Regions from separate parts of the Homo sapiens genome. Here region 1 is linked to region 2. The links come from fine-mapping of genetic effects on gene expression. A gene starts in region 2. The other region holds a variant in brackets. All regions are shown on one strand. Distances are from middle to middle. Region 1 has its middle 27 kb from the start of VCAM1. Region 2 holds the start of VCAM1 (vascular cell adhesion molecule 1).

The links. PIP is the estimated chance that this variant, and not a neighbour inherited with it, causes the effect.
Region 1: its variant is fine-mapped to the expression of VCAM1 in whole blood (TOPMed, PIP above 0.99).

What each region holds. Positions count from the first base shown.
Region 1 is chr1:100,741,530-100,751,050 of GRCh38, forward strand. No RefSeq gene overlaps it. Among named protein-coding and RNA genes, the nearest start is that of VCAM1, 27 kb to the left of the region's middle. RefSeq lists enhancers at 4,437-4,526, 4,617-4,666. The variant C/A (reference allele first, on the strand shown) is at 4,855.
Region 2 is chr1:100,715,497-100,725,017 of GRCh38, forward strand. It overlaps VCAM1 (vascular cell adhesion molecule 1), which reads left to right and starts at 4,246. Exons shown (of 9, transcript NM_001078.4): 1 at 4,246-4,428; 2 at 4,980-5,255; 3 at 7,524-7,844; 4 at 9,128-9,394. The coding sequence starts at 4,365.

The sequences.
Region 1 (9,521 bases), 26 kb after region 2:
TGTTTGTCTTCTTATTGAATTCTAAGAGTTCTCTTATATATTCTGAATAGAAATTCTTTATGGAATATACATTTAGCAAATGTTTTCTTTCAGTAATTGCAGTGGCTTGCGTTTTCATTTTTTTTTTTAACAGTGGCTTTGCCTATCCCAAGGCAACAAAGATTTTCTCATTCATTTTTTTCTAGAGGCATCATACTTTTAGTTTTACATTTATGTCTATGACCCAATCCAAATTAATTTTGTGTATGATGTGAGGCCATGGTGAAAGTCATTTTTGCATATGTGTATTCAACCATTATAGCACATTTTGTTGAAAGGACTTTTTCTCTCATGAATTACCTTGACATTTTTGCAAAGAATCGATTGGCCATATTTATGTGGGGCTTTTTTTTTTTTTTTTTGAGACAGAGTCTTGCGCTGTCACCAGGCTGGAGTGCAGTGGCATGATCTGGAGTGCAGTGGCATGATCTTGGCTCACTGCAACCTCTGCCTCCCGGGTTCAAGCAATTCTCCTGCCTCAGCCTCCTGAGTAGCTGGGACTACAGGCAGTGTGTGTGGGGCTATTTCTGAACTTTCTTTTGTGTTCCATAGATTGATATATCTCTTCATACACAATATGACACTATCATGACTACTGTAGCATTATATTATAAGCCTTGAAATCAGATAGTGTGAGATTTCCAATTTTAAACTTCTTCAAAAATTTTTGGCTAGATTAGATCCTTTGCCTTTCCATATGAATTTTAGAATCTGCTTGTCAACTTCTGTAAAAAATCCTGCAAGTATTTTTGATTAGGATTCATTGAATCTATACGTTAATTTGGGAAGAATTATCATCTTAAAAATATTGAGTCTTCCAACACACATATGTATAATTTCATCTTCTTAGGTCTTCTTTAGTTTTTTTTCACCAATGTCTTACTGTTTTCAGTGTGCAAGTCTTATACATTCTTGGCTAAATTTATCTTTAAGTATATCATTGTTTTTGATGTGGTTATAAATGATATTGGTTTTTAAATTTCAATTTCCAGTTGTTTGTTCCTAATATATGAATATGCAATCAATTTTGTATACTGATTGGGTATTCTTCAACCTTGCTAAACTCCCTACTTCAGTTCTAGTAGTTTTTCGTAGATTCTTTAAGATTTTCTACATAGATGATCATATCTTCTGAGAATATAGACAGTTTTACTTCTTTCTTTTCAACTTATATTCTGTTACCTTTATTTATTTCACTGGCTAGAACTTCCAGTAATACGTTGAATAAAGGTAGATAAAGCAGATATTTGTGCTTTAGTCCTAATCTTAGGAAAAAAGGCATTAGGTCATTTACATGTATGATGTAAATGTTATGATGTAAAATGTATTTTAACTGTGATGTTAACTGTGAATTATCTTAGATGCTATATCAGGTTGAAAATTCCCTTCTATTCTTTGTTGTTGAGAGATTTTTATAATAAATAGATATTGAATTTTGTCAAATACTTGGTATACATCTATTGAGATGATCATGTGGTTTTTCTTGTTTCTTTTTGTGTCTGTTAATATAGAAAACGGCATTAACTGTTAAATATTGAATGAACTTTTTTTCATTACTGAGGTTAGCTCATTTGGTTGCACCTGTGTTAATGAAGAAAGTTGATCTGCAGTTTTTTTTTCTTGTAATATCTTTTGTCTAGTTTTGGTATAAGTAATGCTAGCCTCATAGAATGAGTTGGAAAATATTTCCTCCTATTTCATTTTTAGGGACATTTTCTGTAAAATTGGCCTTATTGCTTCCTTAAACATTTAATAGGATTCACTAGTGAAGCCATCTGGGCCTGGAGTATTCTTCCTGGGAAAGATATTAGCTACAAATCCAATTTTTTGGCTGGGCGCGGTGGCTTACGCCTGTAATCCCAGCACTTTGGGAGGCTGAGGTGGGCGGATCACGAGGTCAAGAGATTGAGATCATCCTGGCTAATGTGGTGAAACCTTGTTTCTACTAAAAAAAAATTAGCCAGGTGTGGTGGCAGGTGCCTGTAGTCCCAGCTACTCGGGAGGCTGAGGCAGGAGCATGGCGTGAATCCAGGAGGTGGAGCTTGCAGTGAGCCAAGATTGCGCCACTGCACTCCAGCCTGGGCAACAGAGCAAGACTGTCTCAAAAAAAAAAAAAAAAAAAAAAATTCAAATTTTTTTTCGCTTGACCACTGACTATTTCAGTTTCCTATTCTTGTTGAGCAAGTTGTGGTAGTTGGTGTCTTTCAGGAAATTTATCCATTTCATTTCAGTTGGGTTTACTGCCATTAAGTTGTTTATAATATAAAACATTATTATGCCTTTAATAACTGAAAGATCTTTACAAAGCATTTTGATCTAAAGGAAAGGGGGAACACATCCCATTAAAAATCTGTGATATACAGCTAAAGCAATGCTTAGAGTGTAATGTATAGCACTAAATGTCTACATTGTAAACAAGGTCTCAAATCAATGATCTATAGTTGTACATAGGAAACTAGAGAAAGGAGATAAAATAAAACTCAAAGTAATCAGGGAAAAGGAAAATTTAAAGATAACATTAAAAATAATAAACAGGCAAACAGTGATTCAATAAAACCCAAAACTGGTTATTTGAGAAAAATAGCAAAATTCATAAACCTCTAGCCAGACTGATATTGGGAATGAGAGAGAACACATCACTCCAGATCATGTAGACATTTGCAGGAAAATAAGAAAATTATAAACAAGTTTATGCCAATAAATTTGACAACAATGGACAGATTCCTTGAAAGAAACAAATTATCAAAGCTCATTGAAATGGAATAGACAATGTGAATAGCTCTATATCTAATAAAGAAGTTAAATGTGTGGTCTCAAAAGAAAACTCCAGGCCCAGGTGACTTCATTGGTGAATTCTACCAAACATTTAAAGATGAAATATTACCAATCTTACATAAATTCTTCCTGAAAATGGAAAACGAGGGCCTTTTTTTAATATCAGGACTTCAACTGATTAAATGAAGCCCACCTACAAACTAATCCGGAGTAACAAAAGGCAACAGATCAGTGGTTGCTTTGGGGCAGGATGGGAGGTAGCGAGGGATAAATTGCAAAGGAGCACAAAGAAAATTTTTGAATGATGGATATTTTATAATACTAATTGTGGTGATAGTTTCATGGATTTCACATATGTCAGACATCAAATCGTATAGTTTAGTATGTGCTGTTTATTATATATCAATCATACCTCTATAAAGCTGTAAAAAATAAAATATTTAAAAAGAATCGCCAGGTGCGGTGGCTTACACCTGTAATCCCCGCACTTTGGGAAGCCAAGGCGGGCAGATCACGAGGTCAGAAGATCGAGACCATCCTGGCTAACACGGTGAAACCCCGTCTCTACTAAAAATACAAAAACAAAATTATCTGGGCGTGGTGGCGGGCGCTTGTAGTCCCAGCTACTCAGGAGGCTGAGGCGGAAGAATGGCGTGAACCCGGGAGGCAGAGCTTGTAGTGAGCTGAGATCGTGTCACTACAATCCAGGCTGGGTGACAGAACGAGACTCCGTCTCAAAAAAAAAAAAAAAAAGAATCTATGATATCATATATACACATTTAATACATAAAATAGAATTATGTATACTGTGGATATATCCCCAAATACATTAAACTAGTATTTTAAAAATTGTACCTTTTTTGACAATAAGATCTGGAAATGTTAAGTTTTGTTCTTTTATTTCTTTGACTTTTCCAATCTGTCCCCTCTTTACCACAAATATCCACATTGCTATGGAAGATTTCAGATCGGTACAAAAAATGCAAATAGAACAGTTAATGAACTCTTTTTAGACTTCAAAGGTAGTTTCTTGAACTATGACTACATACAACAACATGGGTGACTCTCACAAAAAGAAGTAAAAGAAACAATTGGTAAAAGAGACCATACTATATAATTTCATTTATATGTAGCTCAAAAGCAGGCAAAACTAATACATGGTGTTAAAAGTCAGGATATTAGTTACTCCTTTGGTTACAGTGACTAGAAGGAGTAGAAGAGCTCCTTTTGGGTTCTGTTTTTGTTCTGTTGCTTGATCTGGGTGGTGGAATTTTTAATAAAAATTTACATTTCATAGGCAAATTCTTGAAAATCAAGAGCCTAGACGGATGGGGGGATTAGAGTGTATGCATTGGAAAGAGAGCAAAGAGAGAAGCAAATTACCTTGCCCACCTCCCTCCCACTTTTCATCTATCCTGGGTAATGAGAAGGAGAGTTATGTGATAAGACTTTATAGGAGACAGTATAACTTGTGTTCAAAGGGATAACGTGGCATAGAGAGGCCTCAGATAAAGGAGAGATTTCAACACAGAGAGAATGGCAAACACGAGGAAGACTCCTGCAAGCTGAGCCAAGGCATTCAGAGAGACCATACTTGCCTTACACTAGAAACCATCACATCTTTGCAGGGAAGCCAAGTCAGCTGTGCTCATCACTGCCTAGAGATGGATGCCTAGTAAACAGCTGCCTATAAACCCTTTTCATTTTCGAGTAAGATGCTGTACATGACCTGAAGTTTTGCTGAGTCCTAGCCCTTGTCAATAACCCAGGGCACTATAAAGTCCCCTTAAGGACAGGGTTAGATTCTTTATTCTTGCTGATTTTGGTTAGGAGGGGCTTTAGGCTGGGCGCGGTGGCTCACCACCTGTAATCTCAGCACTTTAGGAGGCCAAGGCAGGCAGATCACTTGAGCCCAGGCGTTTGAGACCAGCCTGGGCAACATGACGAAACCCCATCTCTACCAAAAAGTACCAAAAAATTTGCAAGGAGTGATGGCTCATACCTGTACTCGCAGCTACCCAAGAGGCTGAGGTGGGAGAA[C/A]CACATGAGCCCAGGAAGTCGAGGCTGTGGTAAGCTGTGATCACACCACTGCACTTCAGCCTGGGTGACAGAGTGAGACCCTGTCTAGAAAGAAAGAAAAAGGAAAGAAAAGAAGGAAAGAAAGAGAAAGAAAGAAAGAAAGAAAGAAAGAAGGAAAGAAAGAGAAAGAAAGAGGGAGGGAGGAAGGAAGGAAGGGAGGGAAAGAAAGAAAGCGAGCCTTTAAAGGGACGTCACAGAAATGAGATGGGTAAAGGAAGGCAGGCAAGTCTTAGACCTGGATGGTAGCTGACAACTTTGGGGAAGAAGAAAACTTTTTTCCCTGACTCTCCTGGTCTCTGAAGTGGGAGTGATTGCTGTTGGATGCAATCACCTTCTCTGGCTGACTGCCATTAAAGTGAAGCATAGAAGATACTTGCCAGGGCTTTCCCTCTGCAGCAGATATTGTTTATAAATCGGAATATGAAACTATCTCATTTATTTGTCCAATATTCTACTGGGAAGGAAGTAAATGGTTGATTTCAGTGGAGATACACTAGCACTTTCATAATATTATAATATTATATCAGTAAACTTTTAGTAACCTCATAGATTTCATTGTCTGGTTTTCTTAGAAATGGATTCAAATCTCACTGTAGACTTTTGATAGTATTGGTTCTCAGCTGCTAGAATATTTTCTGAATTTATGGGAAACTTGCAATCTCTTATTCTGATTTTGTGGTAGTCAAACCATGACTAAATAACAGGTTGAAAAAATTCATGGCAGTCTACATCATGTAACCATCACCATCACCTTTTCTGCTCTGGATGAATAATGTAGGAAAATTATCAGACAGAAATCAAGATTGCTTACAAATAAAGAAAAGTCTATACAGGCTCACAAACATTTCTTGAGGAAATGCATGTTCAAATAATGATCTAACAAAGAAATTTTTTAAAGTCTGTTTCCCATATTGAATCCTCAGAAATGTCTCTTTTGCTCTGCTAATTGCAGATTTGGGGAATATGCTAGTACCAATCAAAGTGACCACTAAAATTACTGGGGAAGGCAATAACTGGGGTCAATCATCTTATATATTAAGGAGCTTCAGTTTTCTTTTGTGTAAAATTAAGAGTTTTGGCCAGATAAACTTTAAGATCCCTTCCAATGGGTAACTTTTTCCCCTCACTTTATTTTAGATAAAGTTTTCTTACATTTAGCCAAACAGAGGCCTAGGGAATCTTTTTTGTATCCTTTGCTTAATCAACTTCAATGGAGTCTTGAGGAGAAAAATAAAATATTTAAACTAATCCTAACACTAACAAGTAATTTCTGCTATGGATTCATAATGGCCAGGCTTCCCTGCAGAGAGAAAAGGAACATTTGTAATGCTCTTGGGAAAAGCTTTTGTTTTAGTCACAATGATAGTGAAAATTTCACTTCTGAAAAAAAAAAAAAAGAAAAAAAAAAGTGTGCCCTGGCTTTTCAGGCTTTGCTGCTATTGAAGAGCATGGTTTCTCTCAAAAGGGGCTAATCTGCAAGGCTTGCTTGAGAAGAGTATAACAAATTGAATGGAACCAAATGTCTGGGTTTTTTAGTGAAGAACAATGCTATCAGGAGAGAGCATTTTATTGTTTTTAGTTCTTTTCTCATTGAAAGGGACTTTGGGGGCATTATGGAGCAGTAAAACATTGCAAAGGCAATGTTTCAGTCTTGAAAAGAAGAAGAATGAGGAGACGACATTGATTTTGTGGGTAAGGCGGGCATGGTGAATCACCACTAAATTGAATTGTATTGTGATGAATTTTAACTAACTTTCTCAAATGAAAGTTTTAGTCTATGTAAAAAGATTTTTAAAATCAGAATTTGTAATTAAGACTGTTATGACTACTTTTCTTCTTTTCTTTAATCCAGCCTGCATGCAATTACAATTCATTCAATTACCAGGACATTGAATATTATTATGCTAAATCTAACAAGAAGGACTATTAAATATAGAACCTTGAATGCATGATAAAAATGAACATTATTACTTTGGCTTGGGGTCATATCTGGTACTTAGAAATTTAGAAATATTCACATGAATCCTACTTAAAAAGCAGCAGACTCAAGGAGTTGCTTTTCACTGGGATTTCTGTCGTTGTCTTGCCAAGTTTTATGGACACTCGACATTTTTGTGAAAATAATTTCATGCTCCCAGGCAGAAAACTGAAAAAGCCAGTTTATTTTGCCTTGTGACAATCTCATAAAGCCTTGCTTCTTATTTGTTTGAGTTCCTCTTATTTAAATGGTCTAGTCATTTTTGAGTTAACTCTTAATGTTACACACTTGCCATTTACTAGTGTCCTGGCAGTATTTCCCAACTCTCCTCATCATGAGAATTTCATGGGGTACTCATTAAAAATAGAGAGTCTTGTGCACTATTCCAAACCTACTGTTATAGACTCCGTTAGGTGGGGCCTGGAAATTAAATTTTTAAAAATATCCGCAGTGATTTTTATGCCTATATTTGGGAAACACTGTTCTAATAAAAGTAAGTGTTTACCCTAGAAGGTATTAATTGAACCTTGAGTTTTGAAAAGACCTTTCCTGTCTAAGGCTAAGCTTTTTTTTTTTTTTTTTTTTTTTTTTTGAGAGAGAACCTCACTCTGTTGCCCAGACTGGAGTACAGTGGTGCGATCTTGGCTCACTGCAACCTCCAACTCCCGGGTTCAAGCAATTCTCCTGCCTCAGCCTCCCGAGTAGCCTGGACTACAGGTGCCCACCACTACACCCAGTTATTTTTTGTATCTTTTGTAGAGACAGGGTTTCACTGTGTTGGCCAGGCTGGTCTCAAACTCCTGACCTCAGGTGATCCGCCCACCTCAGCCTCCCAAAGTGCTGGAATTACAGGCTTGAGCCACCACACTCAGCCATTAAACTTTCTTTCAAATTTACAACTGCCTCTTCTTATATTTTCTGGAAACAGTCTCTCATTCAAACACTTTTTCCTGTCTTCAACCCCTATCTCTACCAGCCCTTATAAGACTAGTTCACTAGTAATATTTTCTTAACTAATAAAATGGGGATAATTTTGAAATGTAAAGCTATTTTCATTTCTGATAATCTCTAATTTCTGCTTGTCCCACAGTTTCTCCACTCAGCCATTCATTGTTTCATGGAGGCAGAGAGAAGCCAGGTGAGAAAGAATCATTGCTCAGTTTGAGATTTCAACCAGATTTATTTAAATCCACAGGAATACAATGGCTTTATAAGGAAGACTATATAGAAAGTAAGACACTTTTCTACATTCCAGAAATTCTTCTAATATAGTAAGAGCTTCAAGATATAGTGTAATAAACCAGAATATAGAGAAGATGAAAAATGTACAGTAGGCCCCTGATACACAGATGGGGAGAAAGCTCTTCTACTACTGGGAAGAGAAGCCAAGAAAGAAAAAAGTGACAAGATATTAAACACAAATGTCCTTGCTGCTCTCTGCTTTGGGATCAAATATGGGAGGGGCAATGGAGTAGAATCATTTAAATATTTTTGAGGGAACTAAAGAAGCATTGGAATTAGTACTCCCCTTCCCCACAAGTGGAAGCTTCTCAAAGAAGACTTGCATTTTCTAATGCAGCATGGGAGCAATAGAGAAGCATAGGAAAAGAGGCCTGAGGAGGTTAGCGGACAAGAAGTGACCTGGAACTGGAATTAGAAAACCACAAAGTGTGGGAACATTATGACCAGACAAAATGGCAAGGTCTACAGTTCTCAGTAGTTAATAATGTGATGCCAAGATTAGGCGGGACCAGCTACACTGGCAACACTGCACAGGACAATGGTTATCCAGCAGAGGTCAGAATGCGCCAGCAACAGCTTGGGGAGCACAAGACTCCCACTGCCTCCATATGCCCCATGGCACCCGGGAGGAGGAAAGGAGGGCAGGGAAGGAATATTGAAAGGATCGGTAAATATGAAAAAATGCTTTTAAAGTGAAAGAAATGCTTTCAATTAATTGAAGTACTTTTTCTGGTATCAACAGAAATGATGAGTCATGGCAAGAGCAAATCAATGCTAGGTAATAAAGGTTTTTTTGCACATCTGAATTGTAGTGTGAAAATTTCAGCCTGTCATAGCACCAAATGCAATCTGTTTTTATTCGTCCTGTTTTCAGCGTTGATAGTTGACCACTCCGTAATCCTTAAATCTATTTTTATTACATCACATTATACTAGTTTTTCTCTTGTTTCTCTGGCTCTTACTTCCCTCACAACCTTCTTTCATGTATTCTTTGAATGTTGTACCATGGATTCCATACTCAGTTCTCCTTTCATTTTAGATACTCTCCCCTGATGACCTCATCTTTCTTACGGTTTCAATGGTCATAATTTCAAATATACATTCTAAGACTCAGCCTCTCTGCTTCCTGAGATCTATTGGTCATCTCCATAGATATCTCATAAGCATCTCAATTTCCATCTGCCTCAAACTGTTCCCCTAGTTGTTCACAGAATGAGCTGGAAAGTGTTCTTTCCTGTTCAATTTTCTGTAACATTTTCTGGAGAATTAGTAATATTTCTTCCTTAAATGCTTTGTAGAATTTATCAGTAAACAATCTTGATCTAAAGTTTTTTGGTGGAAGATTATTAACCAAAAATTTAATTTTAAAAACATATACAGGGCTATTTAGTCTATCAATTTCTTTTTA
Region 2 (9,521 bases):
TGATAATGCCCTGCAAAAAAAAATACTCCTCTCATCTGGGTAAGAATTGCTGCCATATTCTTGCAAGGATAAAAATAAAAAATAAAAAAATAAAAGAAAGAATTGCTTCCACAGTGAGCCACAGTTACTGCTAAGAATGTCACTTCCCTAAGATGTGTTAGGCCACCCAAGAAAAAAGGTTCAGAATCATCTCTGCTTCAGGGAGGCTCATAATAAATTGACTAATTGGAAGTCCTGAAAGTGTTGGAGTTGCAATGCATTCAGTAGTTATTAAATAAGTGGAAAGAAGTATGCCTGAAGTATCTCAGAGCCCGATTGAGATACCAACTGATACAGCAGCATCAGAAGATGATTATAATTTTGATGTGGACAGTGAAGGGGTTGGTGAAGCTAGACTAGAAACAATGGAGAGTGCTGACCCTGATAACAGAATCTTAGCATTGGAGGGCAACTTAATGGCCATCCAGTTCTATGTCTCAAGGCAAAACTTGACTTCTACCATATTGTTCACAGATGTCATCCAACCTTTGCTTGAATACTCCAGTGATTAATAGCTAGTGAATTCAAAAGGTGATCTATTGCATTATTGAAAAGATTTAACTGGAAAGTCCTTTTTACAATCAACTTAATATGATTGTATCTTTTTTTAATTATTATACTTTAAGTTCTAGGGTACATGTGCACAATGTGCAGGTTTGTTACATAGGTATACATGTGCCATGTTGGTTTGCTACACCCATCAACTTGTCATTTACATTAGGCATTTCTCCTAATGCTATCCCTCCCCCAGCCCCCTACTCTAATTATTACCATATACCATTTATATAGCATTTTACTATATTTATTTTAAGAGATTTCATATGATCAGTGTTGATTGATAGTCATAAAATGATATGAATCACTTGAAATAATACTATCTGAGCATTTGTAAATCTGCTCTGAGAGGCTACATATAGTTGTACAAGGTTTCACAATTCCTAGGTAGAATACCTGGACTTGAAGACAAGACTATTAGACTCTGAGTCCAGATCTCCTTTAAATTGTTATATATTCAATCAGTAGGGATTTACTGAGCTCCTAGTATCTACTGGTTACTATGTTAAAAGTGCTGAAGCACTAATGGTGAACAAGACATAGACATTCTTGGTTCCTCTAGAGCTAATAATCTGGTAATTGCCTACATATGAGTTGTACTTTTAGCTTTTGGTATAGCACAGAGTAATAAGTAAATTCCTTCCCCTGTGCATTAATCATTCAGTTATCACATTGCTTCATGGGTGCCTCTTCTCTAGACAAAATATGTCCTTTTTCTTCAACATAGGAGCTATTACTTTTCTCTGGACACCCTTAATTTCGTCAGCATCTTTCTTAAGGAGTGGCATTCTGAATTAGACACCCAGGCTCCCAGTATGATCTGGTGGGTGTGTAGTGCTCAGAGACTGTGGCCTCAGAAGACTTGAAGGTTGAATTACTAGGAGTGCAACCTGGACTCATCACAGCTATTTTGATTTCTCATGGCAGTGTTCATTTTTATGGTTCGTAAAATCACAAGACCTTCTTTCTGTGAATTGTGACCAAGTCAGATCTCTCCCATACTGTACTCAAACATTGGAAACATTTAAATGCTGACCTTTAATGCATTCCTATTAAATTTTACTTCGTCATCTGGAATATTATTACATACCTTGAGGTCTTCTTTATCTTGCTTCTCTCATCTCTAAGGTTGTCTTTCCCAGTTTTGCATTATTAATAGGTTAGATAATCACGTGCTGTATTAGTTTGTTTTCACACGCTGATAAAGACATACCCAAAACCAGGAAGAAAAAGAGGTTTAATGGACTTATAGTTCCACCTGGCTGGGGAAGCCTCACAGTCATGGTGGAAGGCAAGGAGGAGCAAGTCACGTCTTACATGGATGGTGGCAGGCAAAGAGAGAGAGCTTCTGTATGGGGAACTGCTCTTTTTAAAACCGTCAGCTCTTGTGAGACTTACTCACGATCATGAGAACAGCACGGGAAAGATTTGCCTCCATGATTCAGTTACCTCCCACAGGGTCCCTCCCACAACACATGGGAATTCAAAATGATATTTCAGTGGGGACAAGGCCAAACCATATTATGTGCTTTATGCTACTAATAAAAAGGTTAAACCGAACAAGTTCAAAGACAAAACTCAGTAGTACTTTATTCAGACAGGTTAGTCTAAATCTGTTAACCTTATACTTGCAACTCTGATCATTCATTAATTCTGCAAATTTTAATAAATGCTTTATTTTAAGCTAAATGCTGAGATGAAAAAATGAAACCATATGAGTTAGCAAAGTAGAAAATATAGGCATATTAATCAGTAAATGCAGAATGATAAATGCTCCATCAATATGCACTTGTTGTAGTGAGGCCACCGAGGAGGGTGCAATCCTCTCAACCTGGGAGGAGCAGGTAGGACTTCAGATGTCATCCAACTCAAAGATATAGTGAGGGACTTGATCAAACATTTGCCAAGACCACTATGAGTTAAATGAATAGATTAGGCATTTCTCCAATGTTGCAAGCTTCGAATCATATCCAAACTCAGAACAACATAGCTTGGTCATAATGATCCCAAGGATCCTATTGGCCATTGTCTTTGAGCCTCAAAGGAACATATTAAAACTCCATAATACCCTTTTGATCTATTCTGAAGTTAAGTAGTGAATTTACATGATGATGACACAAACACTGTAAAGGACCTCTGGGTTACTTGTTTATAAGCTAGTATTTCCTGAATCAATTTTTCTGATCCCTAGATATTTGGTAGGTGAAGTCATACCTATATATCCCCACACCCTAGAACAGCATCTCCAACTTATTTTTCCCTCCTTGTCTTTTAGTGGGAGCCACATCAGTATCCAAGAGGAGATCCAGAAGCCTCTCCAACCAGGTAGGGACAGTTATAGATTCCAGACCTCAGCTATGGCCTTTGTTACAGAGTACAAATGTTATATAGTACAAGTTTATTGTACACATCCCATTGAGTCTCTGAGCTTTAGAATTTTCTTGTAGAATTTAACAGTTTTTTCATGCCGTATTTACATATTATTGCTAGTATTTAGAATTTTCTTCTCCAAATGTATAACGTTTATTATTGCATTTTTTGTATCCACTAAGTGGAAAATCATGCATTAGATATTGTAGAAGTAGATACAACAATGAACAAGAACTGGTCCTGACCATGAGAGGAACTGATGATCCAATGGGGGAGATAGACCTGCACGTGTTTAATAAAAGGAAGTGGCTATTCCGGTTTCTTTTTGATGGGCAAGCATTTTGCAAGGCCTTGGGCTATGTGTGTGCAAGGCTAAGCCAGTTAGTTAATTGGGATTTTTTTAAAAAGGCACTTCACTGGGGGGAAAAGGAACATAGAGTTGGTTATTGTCCCCTTGCCTATAATAAAAACCTATTATTTTTAATTTTTTAACTGGGTTTGCGGTTAAATCTCACAGCCCAAGAGATTTGCCACTTCAGATGGATTCCATACACTTGCATTTAAGTATGCAAAAAAATTCCAATTATCCAGCAATTTAACCAAATTATTGGTAACTTTTCTAAAACAAAAAAAAATTGTTTCCCTTGTTTTGGCAGCAATTTCAGTTACAGTCCTTTACTTTCTACTCAAGAAAATAGTTTCAAAAAGTTGATGTTTGTTGCTAAAAGAACTATTTTTATGAATAAATATAAAACTAAGAAGTTATGGTGTCCCTTTTTTAAAAAATGACTCATCAAAAGAAATAACTTTTTCCTTTCTCTTGTAAGAGAAAAAAATTAATCTCTTTTAGAATTGCAAACATATTTCCTTGATGGAGAAAATCAATTCACATGGCATAGTCGTTATTTATCCAGTTCAAAAACCAGAGTAGAATTTACTACTCTGTCTCCATTTTTTCTCTCCCCACCCCCTTAACCCACATTGGATTCAGAAAGCTTCATTCTGCAATCAGCATTGTCCTTTATCTTTCCAGTAAAGATAGCCTTTTGGAGTCGAAGATGAGGAAAAGCCTGTATTTTATAGTCTTGGAAGTGTCTTCTTTTGCCAGGACAGAGAGAGGAGCTTCAGCAGTGAGAGCAACTGAAGGGGTTAATAGTGGAACTTGGCTGGGTGTCTGTTAAACTTTTTTCCCTGGCTCTGCCCTGGGTTTCCCCTTGAAGGGATTTCCCTCCGCCTCTGCAACAAGACCCTTTATAAAGCACAGACTTTCTATTTCACTCCGCGGTATCTGCATCGGGCCTCACTGGCTTCAGGAGCTGAATACCCTCCCAGGCACACACAGGTGGGACACAAATAAGGGTTTTGGAACCACTATTTTCTCATCACGACAGCAACTTAAAATGCCTGGGAAGATGGTCGTGATCCTTGGAGCCTCAAATATACTTTGGATAATGTTTGCAGCTTGTAAGTTATTTCCCTTCATCTGTTTCAAATGTTAGCATTCAATTTTAGCCCTGGTTTTGGCTTCAGTCAGTTTTGCGATAGTAGTGAAGTAAAGACACTAGGATTTTAAACAGTAGGAAAAGTTAATTTAGTCTAACTTTTAATATGCAATTGAGTTTTGCTATATACCATTGTACTGTCATAGTTAGAGCTGAAAATTGATGTTTTTGGTATCTTTTTTTCCAAAGGCAATTGAGTAATTTGGATTCTGTCTCTAGTCGGTCTGTCTCTTTAGTTTCCTATACTTGACAATGAGGTCAAACTTAGCAAATAACAAAACAGCTTTGATAAATGGGCATCAAGGTTGGAACTGAGAATTCTCTCTACTGAAGATGATTCCATAAACTTTTTTGGCAGTGACTTCGGTGCTTTTTGGCTACCTTGCAGTTAGTTTGAAGCAGCTTAGGAAAGAGATCAGTCTGATCATATTTTAGACATTATACAGAGAAGAAGGAGGAGAATACTAGACAAACTAGTGGTAAATTTGCTTCTGTCTTTTTTTGCTTTTGCAGCTCAAGCTTTTAAAATCGAGACCACCCCAGAATCTAGATATCTTGCTCAGATTGGTGACTCCGTCTCATTGACTTGCAGCACCACAGGCTGTGAGTCCCCATTTTTCTCTTGGAGAACCCAGATAGATAGTCCACTGAATGGGAAGGTGACGAATGAGGGGACCACATCTACGCTGACAATGAATCCTGTTAGTTTTGGGAACGAACACTCTTACCTGTGCACAGCAACTTGTGAATCTAGGAAATTGGAAAAAGGAATCCAGGTGGAGATCTACTGTGAGTGCTTTAGAAAATCTTTGTTTTTCTCTCAATTTTACTTTAAAATCACTTTTTAAAAATGATATTTTAAAAAAAGTTTTAAAATGGATATTCATGTACAGATTCTTGGCTAAAGAACATACAACATCAGGAAAGCTAGGGACAGCTAAGGCCAACATGAGAGAGAGCAGGAATCCAAATCTTGGCTTCTATTTCTACCTCTGCCACAAACACAGTGACCATGTATAAGACTCAACCTCTCTGGGCTCTGGTTTCCTTAGCTGTAAAATGATCATTTCTAAGTTTCTTTTTGTTTTATTAAAAAATATTTCCATTTGATTACATCCTTACATGTTTACTTGCTTATGTGTCTGATTGATTTATGAATTCCATCCTTCAGGGATTTTCTATTCATTTATTCTTATGCAATTTGATGCTTAAAATTAGTTTAAACATTAAGTAGATCTATAATTAGTAATATGTATTAGTATAAAAGTGTTCTTCTTAGACATAATTGTTAATATCTGGAAACATTTCAATCATTTGACTTTGGTGTTGACACATTTAGGATTTTTTTTTGGTTTTTTTGGTGCCATGAAGCCTTGGTGCTCAACCGCTCAACTTCAAAGATATTTATATAATGAACTAGATTTGCCTCATGAAAGTGAGTGGATGTCCCTAGTTTACCAGCCTGACAAAATGCATCCCACTCCATTCTCCATTCAGCAAACAAAGTTAGCAAGAGGAGTAAAAAACTAACCAGACATAAATCATTTGCCTTTTGTTACTGATGGCCTCTCTTTCTAAAAAACTGAACCCATTTACGGTCATGTCTTCATGAAGACCTCATTTGATTATAATTACTTTGGTTTCGTTTTATTGTACCGGAGCTCAACTTTTCCCAGTAACCTTAATTGATTCTGCAACAAACCGCATGTGTTGCTCAAGCTTCCCAAGAAACTGTGCTTGGCCGGCTGCTTTCAATTATGCTGGTTGTATGTGCATAGTTTATGTCTGTGCAGCCTCCCGAGCTCCTTGAAAGCTTCCCTTATGTAAATACAGGGAAAAGTAGCAAGTTCTTATGTTACCTGACATCGAACTGTGTGGATTAGAGGAACATTTCTTACAGAATATGAGGGACAGAAATTATTGCTGGAAAAATGAAAAATACCATGTTTCTTCACATAGGAAAGAATTTCCAGCTCCTTTGTCTTTTGCCCACTAGTACCAAATAGTTGAAGATTTAAGAAAGAGAAATGAAGACGCTTCTGGTTTTAATTATCTTGCCTGAGGTTTTTCTCCAAGAGTGTCTGTTTCTCATTATGTATAACAGTTCTGTCTCCTTTCCGCATTTGATTGTAATAGTGGTTAGAGTTGAGACCTTTGTATTCTTTTTGCTACACAGTTTTGAATCCACCAATATGTTACTTCATCATAATGCATAATGAAAAAGGTAACTCTTGCAAAGGAGGCAATGGCCACGTGAAGTAGTGTATTTCCTTGTACTAGAAGCTTCAATGGAACACTTGTTGGGATAGTGAGTTAGGCATTTCAGGAGGCAAATATGTGTTCCAGAACATAAAGATTGCACAAATGTATCTTTCTGGTGGATGAATTCCTGTCAGAGGCACCATTTTCAGAAGCTAATTACTTAAAGTTGGTCTTCTCATTTCTTAGAATATCTTGACAATAACTATTCTTTGCAATGACATTCCAAGGCTTACAGTCATTATCTGTAAAATGGAAATATATCTGCCCTGACTATAATAAGAAAATGTGATGTAACATAATGTAAATCTGTAGTAGCAAAACACAATAATGGAAATCCTGAGTTTAAATCCCAGCTTTACCATTTACTAGGTGTGTGACCTTAGACAAGTTATGTAAATGTACTAAGTCCAGGTCTTCTTTTCTGTGAAATGTGATCTCTATCTCCTAGAGTTATTGTGAGGATAAAATGAAATCATTCATGTTAAATCTATAGCACAGTGACAGCCACATGTAAGGTTCAATATAAACATTATTTTTTCTTCTTTCTTTTACTGTAATAACATGCAACTCTTAATATATACAGGATCAGAATTGAATAATGTTGTAAAAAATGTTTGCTTCCAATTCTTGTGCCTTGAACTCACCCCAAATCATGAAAGGCTATTCAAACAGTTCTGTCGTATTAAGACTGTATTAACAAAAACGCTAGACTTGATTTGTATTGTGTTAAAGTGGTAAGAGACCTTATATCACATTAGCAAAAAGCCCATCCATGTATTTGTTTGGCCTTTTCAGCTTTTCCTAAGGATCCAGAGATTCATTTGAGTGGCCCTCTGGAGGCTGGGAAGCCGATCACAGTCAAGTGTTCAGTTGCTGATGTATACCCATTTGACAGGCTGGAGATAGACTTACTGAAAGGAGATCATCTCATGAAGAGTCAGGAATTTCTGGAGGATGCAGACAGGAAGTCCCTGGAAACCAAGAGTTTGGAAGTAACCTTTACTCCTGTCATTGAGGATATTGGAAAAGTTCTTGTTTGCCGAGCTAAATTACACATTGATGAAATGGATTCTGTGCCCACAGTAAGGCAGGCTGTAAAAGAATTGCAAGTCTACAGTAAGTACTTGTGCGATGTGTTCCAGTCTTTGTGGGAATCCCACCTTGGTTGTGTATAGCAATAAACTTAGCAGAAAAGTAAAAAAAAAAAAAACTTGTATATAGTTTGTATTCCATTTGTATTCATTCACAACATAATGTTTGTCAATAGTATAATTCAGTGAAAAGAACACTGGATTTGGACTGAGAAGGCTTGAGCTTAATTTCTGGCTCTATTAACTGTGTGAGTTTGGGTTACTTAATTTCTCTATTTCCCAGTGTATAAAAGGGGAATAGTAATACCACCTGATTGGGTAGTGGGAAATAGGCTCAAATGATAAAACATTTTAATATTGTTTTGTAAACTCTTATAGTATGCCTTGAACTATTAGTTGCACAGGTACAGAAACTTGACAAGGTGATCACTTATTCTGTGTGTGTATGTGTGTGTGTGTATGCATATGCACATACATACATAGGTGCACTGGACAGGGGAAAAATGACGGGGTTTGATTGCCTCCAATCTCCCTGATACTGCCAGGGGATTTGTGGGAGTCTTGTAGTCCCAGCGTTGTGTAGGAGTGGCCTCACTGTGCTCTGTTCTGGACTAAAATGCTATGTTCTGCACTGGGTACCACATTTAAAGGGAGTATTGCCAACTACGGCATGTTTAGCTGAAAGAGAATGAGCTGGGAAGGCTTTTAACAATATTTTGAGAAGAATAGTCAAGATAGAGGATATTTTTCTGAAGAGAAAACAAAACCTGGCTGGAAAAGACATCTAATTAAGCATTTGAAAGACAGTTATATGAAAGAGTGATTTACCTTATTCTGTAACAGCACAGGGCTGAATTATGGCCAATATGTTTAAAATAGTATAGAGAGAAGATTTCAGCTCAATAGGGAGAAATGTGCTAATATGTAGAGCTGTCCAAAAATCAAATTGACTCTTTTGGAAAGCAGTGGGTTGATTCTCTCAGTAAATGTTGAAGCTGACTTGAATGGGCACTTGGCAAGAATGCTTAAATGGGACTCTTACCCTTAAGTGGGAGGTTAAGCCACATGGTTTTTCTTAATTTCTGAGTATCTACAACCATCTGAAAAATATGAAACATCAACTAAACTTGATCAGTTTAGTCAGAAACTGGATAGACTATTTTGAATGATTCAGCAGTTCTTTATACTAATTTGGCAGAGTAATTTCATCAAATTGGTGGAAGCACATAAATACTAAGAGAAATACATTACCTCTGTTGCACTGGGATGATGCTTAGCAATTGCTAATATTATTTTTTGCCCTTTCAGTATCACCCAAGAATACAGTTATTTCTGTGAATCCATCCACAAAGCTGCAAGAAGGTGGCTCTGTGACCATGACCTGTTCCAGCGAGGGTCTACCAGCTCCAGAGATTTTCTGGAGTAAGAAATTAGATAATGGGAATCTACAGCACCTTTCTGGAAATGCAACTCTCACCTTAATTGCTATGAGGATGGAAGATTCTGGAATTTATGTGTGTGAAGGAGTTAATTTGATTGGGAAAAACAGAAAAGAGGTGGAATTAATTGTTCAAGGTGAGTAGAATGTGAAAAAGGAATGATAAAGGTGCTGTCAGTGGGATTTGAGCAATAGTCAACACAGCTTCAATGCTGAAATTGCTTCCCTTAGTTTCACTGATGACCTATCTGATTGCCATATCCT